Regions from separate parts of the Homo sapiens genome. Here region 1 is linked to region 2. The links come from fine-mapping of genetic effects on gene expression. Tissue or cell type: tibial nerve. Region 2 holds a variant in brackets; the other region holds the start of a gene. All regions are shown on one strand. Distances are between the middles of the regions.

Region 1 (7,804 bases), 160 kb after region 2:
ATTCATATCGCATATATGCAATCTTTGATTAAAATAATGGCTCATCTTTCTTATTACCACCAGCGTTATCATGAGTACAGATATTCCTATGTATTTTTTTTAGCACTTTTATCACCCAAGGTTATGATCAAAACAAACTGAAAGCCATTTAAAGGAGCTGTGGGGCATAAGTAAGCATTTCCCTAATAAAACAAATCAATTCCCATTGCAAAAACTTGTATTATATGAGAAATGCCCGTTTCCACACAGCTACATAACCTCTTTAAGAGCCAGAGTCATGAAGGTCTGTTCATTGTTCTATTCGCAGGGTTGGCACAGTTACTGACACATAAAAACACATTACTGCTAATGGCAAAAACAGCAATTACTTTTGCACCAAACTAATAGTAAACAATAAATGTTTAGTAAGCAAATAAAAATAACTATGTCCTACTTCCTCTGAGTTTCTAACTAAAACAAAGAGTAAATTACTGAAATAGAAACTTCAAATCTCAAAATGAACAAATACCACTGGTACCACTGCCACAATATAAGTATTTAATTTTGTTAACATTAAAAAAGTCTACACAGCTCTATAAAATGACAAATCCTGTGAACTCTCTCTCACATACAAACCAAGAGAATATTTTGTGATTTCAACCCCCTTACTGGAAACTAGTGAAATAAAATTAGTAACATACCAGGTTGGTTACAGAAAAGTTAGCAGTTAACACAGCATGATTTCGGCTGATCGACTGATCATTTTCAATCAGAATGGCACAGTTTTTCCTTCCAACAACGTACTCAACGCCAGTCAAAAGTCTGTATGGTTCTCCTGAGATAAATTTTTTTTTAAAAAAAGATAAGTTGATAGACACATACACATGTACACGAACACACACATACATGTAAGTGTATATGATATAGGTATGACAAATATTAAATAAAACACCTTTGTTATTCAAATGTTAGTCAACTTTACATATGTCAAACTTGTGTTTTCAGTAAAGCCTCACTGAAGGCTATCAAAGGTTATCTAACTATGGTGTTTCAGGAGTAACAACAACAAAATTTAAAATACAATAAAAAAGAGAAAAAGAAAAAAAGGTTATCTAAACAGATAGAAGGCTACATCATTTTTCTAAAGGGAAAGCAATGCTGAAAGGAGTCAATGTTCCCTCAAATTAACTTAAAAACTTAATGTATTACCTAGCAACAATCACAATATTATGTTTGGAACTTGATAAACAAAAATATCAGGAAACTATAAAAAAAGATGCTCAAGCCTGTAATCCCAGCTACTTGGGAGGCTGAAGCAAGAGAACTGCTTGAACCCAGGGGATGGAGGTTGCAGTGAGCCGACACAGTGCCACTGCACTCCAGCCTCGGTGACAGAGTGAGACTCCGTCTCAAAAAAAAAAAAAAATCAAGAAAAATGTGAATAATATAATAGGAGCTTGCCCTACCAGATGGCAAAATATGCCATAAAACTAAAAGTATGGTACTGGACCATGAGTAAACAACACAGACCAATGCAACAAAGTCCAGACTAAGATGCACGTGTACATTTTTTGAAAATTTGTTTTTATCTTAAAGATAACATCTCCAATCAGTGGGAAAGGGTTATCAGTTTCTTTTAAAATTGCTGTAAATCATAAGTTGTTGGAGTAACAGTATATATATTGGAGACATGCGGAGTTGAGTCTGGGAGCATAATTTCATTACCCGAGTGGCAGGGAGATTAGGGCAGATAAAGAGTAGGGAGTCCAGAAGAGCCAGGTCTCCAGGGACGCCTTGACCTGTGAGTCTTCACAGTATAAAATTTATTTAGTTTGGCGCTCTCCATACTCTCTTACCCTGCCAGTCCATTTAGTCTCTACATAGATCTTTGCCAATCATCATGTAAACTTCCCGAGGACAAGACCCTTCACACCCACCACGGGCAACCAATTAACATGTGATCACATTTCACACCGCTGGAAATGAATGGGAAAAAATCGACTTTTCCCATTGTTCTGATGACATTGTGGAAAAGGAGTCTGAAACAAAACTGAAAGTAAGCCTTTTCGTGGTAGTCATTTCCCCAAACTGTCCAGTAGTTCTTCACAAGTCATGTGTGGCCCCCGTGTGGTCCGCCCATGCTAACTTCCTGCCGGGGGTTCCCACTAGGCGCCTGCTGCCGCTTACCCGCAGGCCATCCAGCCCTAGCGCTGCAACGGCGCGGGGGTGAGGCTGGGAGGGAGGGGGAGTCAGGGGAGGGGCGCGGAGGACTGCCACCAGGGGGCGCCGCAATCACCCCACCGCCCGCGCTGAATTCCAGCTCACAGCCGCCGTGCTGCCCGGGAAGAATATGCGCTTGCCATACAGCGTACTCGCCGCTTCTGCGACCGCTTCCGCAGCGTCCCCGGGCAGGAACGGACGCGACGCAGGAATCACCCGCAGGCCCTCCCCCGAGGCAGTCGCTACCGGGAAAATAGGCCCCGAGGCTTCCCTTCTGCCCTTACCTCCTGCCGGGCCCGCGGCGGGCAGCAGTTTCCACATCGGTCCGGCTCCTCAGGGCTGGGGCCGACGTGCAACCGCGTAACCGGGGCTGCTAGACGAGCGCGGATACGGCGCCTGCGGTCGGCATGGGCTCCGGGACGTGCGCGCTCCCGGGAGCCACGCAGGCTGCCTTGGATGAGGCGGGAGTGCGACTTGGGCGCTTGCCCGCCACCTGGTGGTTGGAAAAGGAACAGCACAATCTGTATTGAAATGTGCTGCGTTAAAAGGGTATGTTTCTAAGGTGTCGCTGAATGTAAGGTTACTACCTTTCCTGATTATGAACGAAAAGAATTTTAAAAACTAACTCCAAAGCAACATAAGGAAAATTTTTAATTAAATGCATTAAAATACTTACCAGTTATGTAGTTTCGTGCGTTTGCAGTTTCTTAAATTGCAGGTATTCCTTTGGAATCTAGTAATGGTGATAATAATGATGAAGATAAGGATTTCACCTCGAAGTAAACTCATTATTTTTACTCTTTTCTAAGTTCAAATCAACTTGTCTTAACGTCTTTATTTCATAATGCCACACTTTCAGCTAATCACATGCTAAATACTGGGCAGTCTCCTGTATTTAATACCCTTCCTTTCCACTTCCACCTGTCTCAAGCTGGTTCAAGCTCTCCTCCTAATTCCAGTAGCTTCCCAACCCATCACCACCCACGTCCCACATAATGTAGTCTACATCCTGCGCACTACTAAATAAACATCTGAGAGCACACTCCTGATCACATACATTTTGGCTTTCAAAAGCATTCTGTAATAGGGGGGAAAAGTCACTTTAAAAAGGCTTGTTTAGGCCCAGCACCATGGCTCGCTCCTTTAATCCCAGCAGTCTGGGAGGCCAAGATGGGAGGATCACTTGAGGCCAGGAGTTCAAGATCAGCATGGGCAACATGGCAAGACCCTGTCTTTATAAAAAATTTTAAAGTTAGCAGGGCTTGGTGCCATGCTCCTGTATTCCCAGCTACTCAGGAGGCTGAGGCAGAAGGATCACTTGAGCCCAGGAGTTCGATGCTGCAGTGAGCCATGATCATGCCACTGCACTCTAGCCTGGGCGATAGAGCAAGACCCTGTCTCAAAAAAAAAAAAAAAAAAAGGCTGGTTTACCAATCTCTTATCATCATAGATGCAAACTCCTAAGCACAATATTAGCAAATTGAATCAAGTAGTAGTATAAAAAGAATAATCATAACTAAGTGAGATTTATCCAGAAACAAAAGGGTGGGTTAACATTGGGGGAAAAAATAAATGTAATTCATCATAATAATTTTAAATAGGAGAAAAATCATGATTATCTTGATAGTAGCAAAGAAATTGATAAAATTAAGCACCCATTTAGGATAAAAACCTCTCTGCAAAGTAGGAATAGAGAAAACATCCATGATCTGATAAAGGACATTTACAAAAAAAACTACAGTTTACGTTATACTTAAGGTAAATTATTGAACATTTCCCCATGACATCAGTAATGAAACAAGGATGTACACGCTCTTACCACTTATTTTCAGCATGGCTTTAGATGCTCTAGCCAATGCAATAAAGGAGAAAGAGTAACAAAAGACATTCAGATTGGAAAGGAAGAAATAACAGTCATTATTCACAAATTACACGATTGCCTATATTGAAAATCAAAAAAACTGTTGGCAAACTATTTTAATTAATAAATGAATTTAATAAGGTTATAGATACAATATCTAGATACAAAATTTAATTGTATACCTTTATTCCAGAAAATAAATAGAAAATTACATGTTTAATTATAATGGCACCAAAATAATCGAGTGCTTGGTAATACATCGATCAAACTATGTAATACAAAACATGATTGACTACATAACATTATTGACAGAAAGTTTAAAAAGTCCTAAATAAATGCAAGGATAATGGATCATGTTCACAGATTGTTAAGATGTCATTTCCCCCAAAATTGTTCTATAGATTCAATGTAACTTCAGCAATCTCAAATGCTTTTTTTGAGTAGAAATGGATGAGCAGATTCTAACATTTATATGGAAATGCAAATGCCTAGAATAGCCAAGGCAATTTTGAAGAACAAAGCTGGAATATTTAAATTATGAAATACTAAGATCTATTATAAAGTTACAGTTATTAAGTCAGTGTTTGCTTGGTACAAGGATAGAAAACAGGCAAATGAGTCAGAATAGAGGGACCTAAAAAAAGTGGACACATAAGGTAATTTGATTTTTCGAAGGTGATTACAGGGCAACAAAGGAAAGTCTCATGTGACCCCACCCCACCCCACAAATAAATGATCCCGTTTATTAACGTGACACAAGAAATGTGTTAACATAACACAGGAAATGAAGACTGATCCCCCTAATTCATTTAGATGAATTAGAATTCATCTAAATTCCAGATGAATCATTATTTACATAGGAAAGTAAAATAATAAATATTAGTGGAAGAAAACATGATTTCAAAGTAGGCAGATCTTTCTTAAGTAGGACACACAAAAGTATGCCCTGCATCATAGAATCCCTAAATTTCACTGATTTAGTGAAGCATCAACATTTTGCAGGAATTTTCTTCCACATTCTGAAGTATACATATCTCACCAAGGCCTCCAACCTGTTTGCCAAATCCTTACTCATCCAATCTGGTGAGCATAATACCATCACTGTAGTAGAACAGTGGATGTTCTGCAGCATGTCCAGACACTTCAGGTCTCTTGGGAATACATTATGATAGAGGTTAAGGAGATACAGCTTAGCTCTGGGTCAACATTGCAAGTATTTTCTATTATTTTTTCTAATTAAATATGAGCACTTTTGGATTCTACTTTCTGTTAAGGTTGGGGAAGCACATGTCATCATATCAATCACCCCAAACCTGTTGCCTGAGGTCATGTTGTTCTGCTCTTGTAAAGATTTCACATCTGGTACAGCAGCTCTAATTGGGGTTATTACTTTGTTGATTGCAGTAGTCGGCTGTTTATTCTCCAGGAACTGTTAGGCTTTTGTAGGTCAAGTATGATGAATTAAATGGAGATAAAAAGGGAGCCAAAAAGAAAGCACTAATATCTATCATTCCCCTATATTGTTCTTGCTCACTGTCATGGCTGTACAATTTGAGGCTGCTCCCTGTTGGCCTTGCCCGCGTTGATAGTTCTTACCCTACAGGCCAAGGAGCTGAGGTGGGTATTGTAAGAACTACCAAGGATGTTCATTTCAATTATATATTTGGGAACTAGGAAAATGACCACCACGTAAGTCTATGTGTTCGGTGGACCCACTGTATGCCAGACCTGGACAAGGACTCCCTTAACTCTCTGGCTTCTGAATACCTCTGCTTTAACCAGGAGTCATAATATTTTGGGTTCATGGGTATCAATAATGATCATGTCCCACAGCCCTCCAAGTATTTGGGCATTCTCTTTTCCTCAGTGTATGATTTTCCAAGCGAATGGCTATAGGTCCCTTAAGGGAAAGACTGAGAGTAGGGTGGGGTGCGGGGAGGTCATTACCATATATTCTTGCTATGGGATTGCAGGGTCCTTCTTACTGGCAGTCCTGCCTCTCCACCAGTCAATGGGTTCTGGATTGGCAAAGTGGCTCAAATCAGGAAATTCGGAAAGAGACTGTGACTTTTTGTTGAGGCTGCTGCTCTGAGCCTTGTGTCTTCCATTCTTGATACCTGTTCACTGAACAGATTGAGTTTACTCTTGGTTAACTGTCTTTCCCCACAGGGGTGCCTTATTCTATTAAGCATCTTTTAAGCTCACTCTGGGTCGAGAGCTCTGCTGCCACTTCAATCTTGCCACTCAAGATAATTATACCATTCGGATGGTTAAGTACCACCAGCTGGCCTCTATCATTTCAGGATTCTATTATCCCCAGTCCTATCTGGGAACTCAATTCCATAACAGCATCTTTTATCATCAACCATGACCTACAGAGGAGACCTACCACTGAGCTTCTCAGTGATGCTGGTACCCTTCTCACCAGAGAATTCCATGTCTCTTTAATAAATGGCACATCTGAACTGGAATTTTGACATCTGGGGGGTTTCCAGCCCTACATAATATGGCCACTGTAGCATACCCATTTCCCTGAGCAGTTTGATCCCTACTTCTACCATCTGCCATGGCAGCTGTGGCATTTTTACTTCTCTTAGCGTGGGCCACCACTTTTCCACAAACTTCTAAAAGCCGTCATAGAAGCATGATAGCAATGTTTCCCAGAGTCCTTGCTGGAATGTTCGATCCTCTCTCCCTGGAGACTGCTCTCAAATCAATAAACTCTCTCATACAAATTTACTTTCCACTCTCCTTTTGTTCAGCATCCTCAGAAGGCAGTCCCATCAGTACTGTCTTGTTCCAGCTGCTTCATGTTGGCAGGGTTCTACAGCTCCTTCTGGGTAAAGCCACCTCCTTCCTTTATCAGGCCCAGTTCTTCCCTGCTGGGAAATACTATAACTTAGCCCAACTTATTGTCTGATTGCCAGGATGAAAGATGGTAGTGGCAGAGTGATGAAGGAAAACAGATCCCACAATTTCTATCTGTTGCTTGGTAACAACACAGGTCTAATAATCAGAGCCCAGAAAAAAATTGAAGAGGAGCATGATGCAAATAGGGTTTGCTTTTGGTAGCAAATTGGTCTGCTTATTGCTCCATGCTCCCTGCTTCTTGTACCTTGCTGGCATCTCCTCTCACCTCTGTCATGGTATAAACAAACTCTTCTAAATCTTTAGGGTCTTGACAGAGTCTTCCCTTTACATCTTGCCTTAAATGAAACTTTGCTGTCACCCTAGACCACAGCTTCCCATGACAGGTTCTAGGCTAGTTTGCTCCAATGCCTCTCCCACTCATATCCAGTACAGCTGTGGGCCACTAGGGTTACTACTTCCCCCTAAACTTTACTTTCCATTTTAGTGTATTACTCTTCCCTACTTTGCAAAACCTCTCCTTGGTCAGGATCATTTCGTGTAACTATCCACCCTCTAGACCTTCTTTTTCTATTACCTACTGCAGGTATGACCATGTCACTTGCCCATATTCACTAAGGACACTGTCACATATGTGAGAGATTTTGCTCCATCCCAACTCTTGCCATCACTCTCAACTACACTGAAAACTCATTCTACATGCTAGGCTCACTATTCTTCAACTGTCTCAGCTTCTGTGACTTTCATCTCTACTCCACACATACCACCCTCTCAGTTGGCCACACTTTCGATCTTCACATCATCAGAACCTTCTTCACCCTTATTTTCCTGCTTTATAACTGGAGCTGCCTGGCCTTCCCACTTCCTTGTATGTTC
Region 2 (11,065 bases):
ACAAACTGCTTTAGTAACAGACTCCAGAAAAGCACTGTAACACCAAGTCAGGAAACAGATTCTAATTCAACTCTAGTGGTTTAGATCAGTTTGAAAAAATTACTGAAACCATGCTAAATTTGTTTTCTCAGCAATTAAATAAAAGTGACCCTGAGGTGAAATTCTTAGGACCTTCCAGTGTCAAAAATGTAATGAACTGGAGAACATTAAGAATTGATACCTGAGGCTGGGCATAGTGGCTCACATGAGCCTGTAATCCCAGCACTTTGGGAGACTGAGGCAGGTGAATCACCTAAGGCCAAGAGTTCAAGACAAGCCTGACGAACATGGTGAAACCCTGTCTCTACTAAAAATACAAAAATGGCTGGGTGTGGTGGCTCGTGCCTATAATCCCAACACTTTGGGAAGCCAAGGTGGGCCGATACTTGAGGTCAGGAGTTCGAGACCAGCCTGGCCAACATGATGAAACCCCATCTCTACTAAAAATACAAAAATTAGCCAGGTATGGTGGCATGCCCCTGTAATCCCAGCTACTAGGGAGGCTGAGGCAGGAGAATCGCTTGAAACCGGGAGGCGGAGGTTGCAGTGAGCTGAGATCATGCCATTGCACTCTAGCCTGACAGACCAAGACGCCATCTCAAAAAAAAAAAAAAAAAAAAAAAGAATTGATACTTGGAAGTCCAAAGTCAAATTTATATCACTGTGGCCAGGTGTGGTGGCTCAAGCCTAGGATCCCAGCATGTAAGGAGGCCAAGGTGGGAGGATCACTTGAGCTTAGCAGTTGGAAGGAAGTTACAGGGAGTTATGACTGTGTCACTGCATTCCCGCCTAGGCAACAGAGTGAGACCCTGTCTCTAAAAATTAAAACTAAAAAATAATTTATATCATTGCGTGATGAATATACCATGTCTTATTAGCTTGCTGCTTTGGTAAGGTAGATACTTTCTTAAAACCATTCTGATAATAGCGGTTGTTTTATTTGTTACTAAAGGGTTTAGGCCATGCAAATTAGCACCATCCGAAACTCAGATAACTCAAATTAAATAAAAAGTTTTGAAACACTTTATTTATTTATTTTTTATTATGTTATTTTATATTTTTATCATTATACTTTAAGTTCTAGGGTACATGTGCACAATGTGCAAGTTTGTTACATATGTATACATGTGCCATGTTGGTGTGCTGCACCCATCAACTCGTGATTTACATTAGGTATCTCTCCTAACGCTATCCCTCCCTCCTCCCCCCACCCCACATCAGGCCCTGGTGTGTGATATTCCTCTTCCTGTGTCCAAGTGTTCTCATTGTTCAATTCCCACCTATGAGTGAGAACATGCGGTGTTTGGTTTTCTGTCCTTGTGATAGTTTGCTCAGAATGATGATTTCCAGCTTCATCCATGTCCCTACAAATGACATGAACTCATCCTTTTTTATGATTGCATAGTATTCCATGGTGTATATGTGCCACATTTTCTTAATCCAGTCTATCATTGATGGACATTTGGGTTGGTTACAAGTCTTTGCTAGTGTGAATAGCACCACAATAAACATACATGTGCCTGTGTCTTTATAGCAGCATGATTTATAGTCCTTTGGGTATATACCCAGTAATGGGATGGCTGGGTCAAATGGTATTTCTAGTTCTAGATCCTTGAGGAATCGCCACATTGTCTTCCACAATGGTTGAACTAGTTTACAGTCCCACCAACAGTGTAAAAGTGTTCCTATTACTCCACATGCTCTCCAGCACCTGTTGTTTCCTGACATTTTAATGATCGCCATTCTAACTGGTGAGAGATGGTATCTCACTGTGGTTTTGATTTGCATTTCTCTGATGGCCAGTGATGATGAGCATCTTTTCATTTGTTGGCTGCATAAATGTCTTCTTTTGAGAAATGTCTGTTCATATCCTTCATACACTTGTTGATGGGGTTGTTTTTTTCTTGTAAATTCGTTTGAGTTCTTTGTAGATTCTGGATATTAGCCCTTTGTCAGATGAGTAGATTGCATAAATCTTCTCCCATTCTGTAGGTTGCCTGTTCACTCTGATGGTAGTTTCTTTTGCTGTGCAGAAGCTGTTTAGTTTAATTAGATCCCATTTGTCTATTTTGGCTTTTGTTGCCATTGCTTTTGGTGTTTTAGACATGAAGTCCTTGCCCATGCCTATGTCCTGAATGGTATTGCCTAGGTTGTCTTCAAGGGTTTTTATGGTTTTAGGTCTAACATTTAAGTCTTTAATCCATCTTGAATTAATTTTTGTATGAGGTGTAAGGAAGGGATCCAGTTTCAGCTTTCTACATATGGCTAGCCAGTTTTCCCAGCACCATTTATTAAATAGGGAATCCTTTCCCCATTTCTTCTCTTTGTCAGGTTTGTCAAAGATAAGATGGTTGTAGATGTGTGGCATTATTTCTGAGGGCTCTGTTCTGTTCCATTGGTCTATATCTCTGTTTTGGTACCAGTACCGTGCTGTTTTGGTTACTGTAGCCTTGTAGTATAGTTTGAAGTCAGGTAGCATGATGCCTCCAGCTTTGTTCTTTCGGCTTAGTATTGCCTTGGCAATGTGGGCTCTTTTTTGGTTCCATATGAACTTTAAAGTAGTTTTTTCCAATTCTGTGAAGAAAGTCATTGGTAGCTTGATGGTGATGGCATTGAATCTATAAATTACCTTGGGCAGTATGACTATTTTCATGATATTCATTCTTCCTATCCATGAGCATGGAATTTTCTTCCATTTGTTTGTGTCCTCTTTTATTTTGTTGAGCAGTGGTTTGTAGTTCTCTTTGAAGAGGTCCTTCACATCCCTTGTAAGTTGGATTCCTAGGTATTTTATTCTCTTTGAAGCAATTATGAATGGGCGTTCACTCATGATTTGGCTGTTTGTCTGTTATTGGTGTACAAGAATGCTTGTGATTTTTGCACATTGATTTTGTATCCTGAGACTTTGCTGAAGTTGCTTATCAGCTTAAGGAGATTTTGGGCTGAGACAATGGGGTTTTCTAAGTATACAATCATGTCATCTGCAAACAGGGACAATTTGACTTCCTCTTTTCCTAATTGGATACCCTTTATTTCTTTCTCCTGCCTGACTGCCCTAGCCAGAGCTTCCAACATTATGTTGAATAGGAGTGGTGAGAGAGGGCATCCCTGTCTTGTGCCAGTTTTCAAAGGGAATGCTTCCAGTTTTTGCCCATTCAGTATGATATTGGCTGTGGGTTTGTCATAAAGATCTCTTATTATTTGGAGATACGTCCCATCAATACCTAATTTATTGAGAGTTTTTAGCATGAAGCGTTGTTGAATTTTGTCAAAGGCCTTTTCTGCATCTATTGAGATAATCATGTGGTTTTTGTCTTTGGTTCTGTTTATATGCTGGATTACGTTTATTGATTTTCATATGTCGAACCAGCCTTGCATTCCAGGGTTGAAGCCCACTTGAACATGGTGGATAAGCTTTTTGATGTGCTGCTGGATTTGGTTTGCCAGTATTTTATTGAGGATTTTTGCATTGATGTTCATCAGGGATATTGGTCTAAAATTCTCTTTTTTTGTTGTGTCTCTGTCAGGCTTTGGTATCAGGATGATGTTGGCCTCATAAAATGAGTTAGGGAGGATTCCCTCTTTTTCTATTGATTGGAATCGTTTCAGAAGGAATGGTACCAGCTCCTCCTTGTACCTCTGGTAGAATTCGACTGTGAATCTGTCTGGTCCTGGACTTTTTTTGGTTGGTAGTCTATTAATGATTGCCTCAATTTCGGAGCCTGTTATTGGTCTATTCAGGGATTCAACTTCTTCCTGGTTTAGTCTTGGGAAGGGGGTATGTGTCCAGGAACTTATCCATTTCTTCTAGATTGAAACACTATTTTTTCACCAAACGTGTATTGAACTCTTGGAGGAGAAAAAAATAGAGAAGAAGTATTCTTGCCCTCAAGGAGATCAGATTAGGGATAAAAGAAGAAAACAAAAACAAAAACAACCAAATATAATGTACCTGTCTACTAGGAACAATCAGGCCTTAGGAGCTGGAAAATCTTCACCAAATCCAATATGGAAATTAGAAAGAAAGTGGCATTCTGACCCTCAGTTCTGTAAACTCAAACACAGATTTTGGCACTAGGCTGATAATAAACTTTTTTAATAAAATCAGAATGCAATGCCATTTTTAAGGGCAAGTAATAGAACTGCTGCTGGGCCTCCATAATTTCTTGGGGAATACCTTCTCTTCTAGTAGTCAGATTTGTGCTCAAGCCTAAATTGTAAATAAAGGAACATAGATAGGGGGCGTCTAGTCATCTTCCCAACAGAAATACTGTAAATGGGGCTTTAGACTTGAGTATTTGCCCAAGAAATGCATGAATGGATACTACAAGGATAACTTCTCTGACCTTCTGCCACCAATTTTAATTAGCTCATTCTTTAGGTATGTTAATACTTCCTAGAAAACTAGCTGTTTTTCAAATTATAAACTATTTCATATGTACAGAATATAACAAGGATTTCATGTACCACACACATAAGGTGTTAATATTTTACCATATTTGTTTCCAGAGTTTTTTTTTTTTTTTTTGAGACAGGGTCTCGCTTTGGCACCAAGGCTGGAGTGCCATGGCATGATCATAGCACACTGCAGCCTTGAACTTCTGGCCTCAAGCAATCCCCCTGCCTCAGCCTCCCTAAGTGCTGGGATTACAGATGTGCACCACTATGCCAGCCTCTTTCAGATTTTAAGAAATAAAACACTATAAATAGAAGGAAAGCTTCATCTCCTTATCTTTCTCTCATCATCACCACCTTTTTTCTCCTCAGTTTAAACAACTATCCTAAGGTAAATATGAATCATTTCCAAGTACTTTTTACAAATCTGACTACATATGAATATATCCATACATAATTATGTCATTTCATAAATGGTACTACACTGTTCATATCCATTTGCAACTTGAGGTTTTCTCTCAACTTACTGGATGCGTTGAGGCACATCCATATCTCTATGTCTTGCTGCATTTGCCATAGTGCACACAGCAGAAAAGTGGACGAAGCTGAACTCTACCTCAGGAGGGGAGTAGACTATTTCTTTAAGACAACTGCAAATCTCTCCTCTAATCCTTCATGTCATGACTTTTTCCCCACTCTTCCAGTAAGCTTTTATTATCACTTAAGTCATGATTCAGGGTCCCACGATGAGCTCCATGTACCCAAGTCCCCCTTTATCACCCTGGGAGAAGGACTTAGGACCGAGGAAAAGTGGGGCAGAACTCATTCTCATCTTTCCAGGAATTGTGGCTTCTGCCCCGTGGTCACCCCAGGTTAAGACCCAGAATATGATGCTGGGGGATTTGTACACATTCCCACTACCATTTGCACCCAGAGACATCACTCTCTTCAGACATCATTACCTTTCCACAGTGGTAGAAATCTGGGTAGTTCTGCCAGCAGTTCCTGAACTGGCTCTGGTTGGGGAAGCAGCTGTCAAAAGCGGCAGTTCTGTAGTTCTTGACATGGGTCTCGATATATTCTGCTATGTTGCTAACTCCTAAAGATGCCCCTGAGATACCTCTCAGCTCAGTGTGACCCTCAGCAAAGACTATCATGATTTTTTAATTTACTGGGCAGAGAGAAATCTTATTATCAAACTCTTGAAAGAAATAGCATTTTTGTCAATGGTACTATTCACACAAGTAACACTTGCAAAAGGTCAGGGAAAATGAGTTGTGTACATTAATAGCCAGGAAAAGATTAAAATTGAAAAGATGGCCCTACATGTCTTGGGAAAATTTTCTTCAAACTACTGATGTGTGAAACATTTTTAGAATGTTGTTGTGTTTGAAAAAGCTCATTGAAAATACCTGGAGAAATTTTTGAAAGGCAAAGAGTTAGAAAATGAACTAACGTGATATAAAGTTAAAAAGCTTTTGCTGAGCAAAGGATACAGTCAACAAAGTGAAGAGACAACCCACAGAATAGGAGAAAATATTTGCAAACTACCCCTATGATATCCAAGTTGTAAGACAAACTCCTCTTTACTCTTCCCTCTCCTCTCCCCAAGCAAAAGAAAGAACTCTCTTCTGGGGCTGTGAGCTGTGCTGCCTTGGTATGCGGGGAGGGGTGACACACACACTCCCTTGGCCACCTGGGCTGGTGTCTCACTAGGTCATATGCCTGCCAAATCTACTGACTCTGCGCCCAGCACAGCACCAGGACTTGCCCAGGAATCACAGTTCTTGCGGCTTAGACTACCTTTCAACTTTATTTAGGACCCAGAGCGCTTTAGTCCACAGTGCCGAGGCTTGCCAGAACACAGGTTCTGACTACTGGGATAGGCTACCCGCTCTGGATAGGGCTGGTCTAAATGCTCCCTCCATGGGTGGTGGCTGAGTTCTGTCCCGTGTTGCTTTTCACTGTGACAAGGTAGCACCGAGTTCCAATGCAAAGTCCACAGATGCTGCATTCTCCCACCCCCAAGGGCACAGGCTGTCTTTGTACCATGTGGCCGCTGCTGAGGAATGCTGGAAGAGCATTGTCAGCAATTTAAGGCTGTCTTTCTTATCCTATTCAGTGCCTCTTTGGGTAATGTGAGGTTAAAACCAGGTACTATGATCATGCACCTGCTTGTTTGTCATGA[A/G]GGTGCTTTTTGTGTAGATAGTTGTTAAAGTTGGTGTTCCTGCAGGGAAGACTATTGGTGGAGGCTTCTATTCAGCCATCTTGCTCAGCCTCCACAAATGCTTTCTGTGAATTTTTTTAAAGCAGTCAGACATAGAGAGAATAAAACAGTGATTACCAGGGTTGGAGTGTGGGATAGGAATTGGGAAGATATTAGGCCAAAGGATACAAATTAGCAAATATATACGATGAACAAATGGAAAGATCTAATATACAATGTGAGGACTATAGTCAATAATAGAATGTTATATTCAGGATTTTTTCTAAATGAGTAGATTATAGCTACTCTTGCCATAGGGGGATAAAGGAGTAACTGTGTGAGACGATGGATATGTTCCTTTGTTCCACTATAGTGACCTTTTTACTGTATATGTGCATCTTATAACATCATGTTCCATATCTTAAATACACATAATGATTTTTTTTAAAGAGTCAGCCTTTTCCAGGATGTGGGAAAGGATTTGCTTGCAGCAGCTAAGTAACATGACATACTGTACGTAGTTGTTGGCCAGGATAATTACACAGCAAATCACTTATGTGGAAAAATACTCAGTAGACGAATACAAAGAGACAGGAGCCACTTGATGAGCATAGCAAAACAAGCTGTGAAAAATAAATACACATACACACGCTCTGCTCTAATGTTCTTAAAATCCCCCCCGTCACACACTGCAGTTCCCTGTTTGGCCATCTCAGCTGCCCTAAAGCTGGCTAGAAAAATGATGGGCAATTAGAACGCTGCTCAGCAAACCAATTACAAAAAGAAATAAGATTAGAGTATGGACATGTTTGGAAGAAGATTTAGGGGAAATCTTTCTAGTTTGAAATGGTGAATATTAAAGATGGAGCAGTTCCCACAATCATTTGAGTCTATTTTTTATTGAAATTATAATAACAAATTAGCTTTGCTAATCTTATTTCATTTACTACAACAAACCCTATGAAATTTTTGCTGCTCATGGTATAATTGTCCTTATCTTTGAGATGGGTAAACCAGATCATTCAGAGTGATGTAAGAGGGATTTATCCAAGACTACATGCCAGTGAGTGGGAGAGCTCAAGGCTCAATCTCAGACCTTTTTTTTTTTTTTTTGGTGCAGTGATGTGATCATAGATGACTACAGCCTAGAACTCCTGGCCTCAACCACCCACAGTGCTGGGATTCCAAGTGTGAGCTACCATGGCCAGCCAATCTCACGTCTTCTGACTCCAGCTACTATGGCATTTCCGCGACACTATGCCTTTTCTTGCCAGTGATGAGTGAGGTCAGCTGCTATCCAGTAAACGAAATGGCTCCAGTTTTTCATTTCCTCTTGATTGTCTTGTCTAGTGGTTGCATTAAATCTGGAAGTACTTGGTCCTGTCTGCCTCCAGCCTACTGTTCCCCTGACTCCTGATAAGTGACTAAACAAAATGACAAGTACAAGGGGATTTCCAGTGCTACTGGCTTGTTTCTGTGTGGTCTTTGATTTTTCAAGAGTAATGAGCAAAAAAAAAACAGAAAAGAAAAAAGAAAAAAATGTCTCTTATATATGCCATCTAAATTTCTCTCCCTTTCTTTCCATGTGTACTTACATAGAAATACCAGTTGCTGTGTTTGCACAGCACCCAGCTGATAATAGCGAAAGCCTCTCATTCTTCACACCCATTTCCCAGGCTCTTTAATGTGGGCTCAAGGGAAGGGCACCTCCCCTGCAGTTTAAGCGTGATCCAAGTGGAATGATTCACACCAGGCCCTGCTCTTCTTTTCAATGTAAGTAAATCTGATGTGTATCTTACAGAAACTGTTATTGGCAAGAATTCCTCCCCTGTCCCACTCATGTTCTATATTCATATTTCTGAGGATATTCACAGATCTCTACCCATATTTAAGTTAAGGGAAGTGCATCTTAAAGCTTCTTAAATCTATGAGAGACCTAAGATCCTGGGCCAGAGACTGACCAGAAACAAGCAGGACATAGGGTCTGAAGAAGCACATTCCTCCCTCAGGTCCTCCGCACACCTTCCTTCCCCTTTGATGGGACAATCAGGAGGCAGTGTCACATCTGTCCTTACTGAGTTCTTGCTAGTTTTTTTTAAATCTATTTATTTATTTATTTATTGACTGGATTATGAGACCAGCTAATTTTTGTATTTTTGGTAGAGAGGGGATTTTTACCATGTTGACAAGTCTGGTCTTGAACTCCTGGGCTCAAGCTATTCTCCTGCCTCAGCCTCCTGAGTAGGCGGGGCTACAGGTGCATGCCACCATGCCCGGCTAATTTAGAGATGGGGTTTCACTATGTTGGCCAGGCTGGTCTTCAACTCCTGACCTCAAGTGATCCACCAGCCTCGATCTCCCAAAGTGCTGGGATTACAAGCGTGAGCCACCGCACCCAGCTCCATTAGTTTTTGAGTTTGTAATCTTAATTACAGTATAGTCATATAAACATTAGTTTTTCTTCATGAAATAACTGTGATTGAAAGTCGTTTCTTCCCCTGACTATACACTATGCTTTCAGGTTATACTTGTGTTTTGCTGTTGTTGTTCTTGCTGCTGATGCTTTATGGATTTCAAAATGACGGAAAAGGAAAACAGCATAGGGAAGCTGATCCTCTTCCACACCCAGAGGGCCATTCTGCTGCCTCTCTTCCAGACACAAAAGGAGACAGAGCAGACATTCATGTGGCTGAATTCCTAATTTTCCATTATAGCTGCCAGCATGTGTGAAAACAAGCATAAAAACCAAAGACTTACCTTAATCTTCATTTCAGTCTATTTGGCATTTCTTGCACTTCCAAGTCTGAGGGATGAGTTATCTACCACAGCTAGGAAAATTTATCTCTATGCATTTACATTTGAACATTTTTACCAACTAAATAAAAGATAGATTGCTCTTAACTACTGCAAAAAGATGATTACTTTTTTCTAATATATGACTAAAATTTCTGCCCTATCTAGTTTTTTACATAGAAAGGTTAATTTCTATGAATCATTGCAAAGATAAAAATAAATTTTGATTAAAAATATTTATTCAATGGAAATACTATAAAGGGAGGATTTTAATATTGTTTCTACTGATGTAACTTGTCTTAATGGAAAACATCAGTGGATCATGGCTTTGGGAATCTCAGACTCATAATAATTACCACCTGTTTTGTGTTTGCAACGTGCCAGACACGGTAGTAGAGACCAGGATTTCAGAAATAAGTTAGATGTAATTCTGTCCCCAAATAATTTATGCCTAATAATAAAAACAGGTTTATGTCCACTTTGGATGAAATGAGTTGCTCTCATTCTGTTGCTCAGGCTGAAGTGCAGTGGCACAATCTCATCTCACTGCAATCTCATTGTTCCAGGTTCAAGTGATTCTTGTGCCTCACCCTCCCGAATAGTTGGGATTATAGATGTGCACCAACACACCCACTAATTTTTGTATTTTTAGTAGAGACAAGGTCTTGCCATGTTGGCCAGGCTGGTCTCAAACTCCTGGCCTCACGTGATCCACCCACCTCAGCCTCCCAAAGTGCTGGGATTACAGTCATGAGCCACTGTGCCCAGCTGGAAGCCAAGATTTTAATGCAAAATAAGAATTATCTAGGGTGAAGCTACAATATTGTGAAGGGAGTACAGAGCTGGCTTGAGATTAGAAAGGTTTTCTAGAGAGGTCACCCTCTCTAGAGTCAGTTTCAAAGTTGGGTAATACCAAGTGATTAACAAATACATCAACAGTTAAGGGCAGTTTAGGTGAACAGACTATGTGCAGATCATCTAACATAGTCACTGAAGATTAAGTAAGAATAAGAAATAGGCCTTGCTAAGCACTATAGGGAGGGAAGACAACCTAACCGATAATTATGTTAAGTATTATAACAGAAGCGAGCACAATGTCCAAAAACTGCATAGAGGCGGGTATTTCACTCAGCTCTGCAGATCAGAAAGGCTTCCCAGAACAGTAATGCTTTAGCTGAATCTTAATGAATAAGGATTTTTCCTGTGGTCAGAGAAGTGGGAAGGAAAGGACAGTTAAGGAGAGATTATACAGAAGATATTGGAAATGGAATGGATAATTTGTGCTCAGTCATTCGGCACTCACTATGTGCTAGACACTGGATGTTATCACAAGATGGGGTGGAGATTGATCTTGGACAAGACATACAGCAGCCAGATCATCTTTTTAAAAAGTAAATCACATCATTTTACTCTCCTATTCAACAACCTCCAAAGTGTGCTCCCCTTGCAAGCATAATAACTATTGTGGGTTCTTAGCATGACCCACACTGTCCAATATGATCAGTTCCCAAAAAATTTCGACAAGCTCACCTCCTGCCACATGCACTTACTCCCTCTGGCATTTTTTCTGTTTTGTAGGACAAACCTTTGGCTTCCCCAGGGGATTTTCTCCCTCCACCTGGAATGCTCATT

The links. PIP is the estimated chance that this variant, and not a neighbour inherited with it, causes the effect.
Region 1: it holds the start of NBN, and the variant in region 2 is fine-mapped to the expression of NBN in tibial nerve (GTEx, PIP above 0.99).

The regions. Positions count from the first base shown.
Region 1 is chr8:89,982,042-89,989,845 of GRCh38, forward strand. It overlaps NBN (nibrin), which reads right to left and starts at 2,626. Exons shown (of 16, transcript NM_002485.5): 1 at 2,484-2,626; 2 at 681-814. The coding sequence starts at 2,520. RefSeq lists enhancers at 1,719-2,058, 2,190-2,986 and a silencer at 2,179-2,378.
Region 2 is chr8:89,818,279-89,829,343 of GRCh38, forward strand. It overlaps the pseudogene COX6B1P6. Among named protein-coding and RNA genes, the nearest start is that of RIPK2, 66 kb to the left of the region's middle. RefSeq lists an enhancer at 7,978-8,107. The variant A/G (reference allele first, on the strand shown) is at 6,623.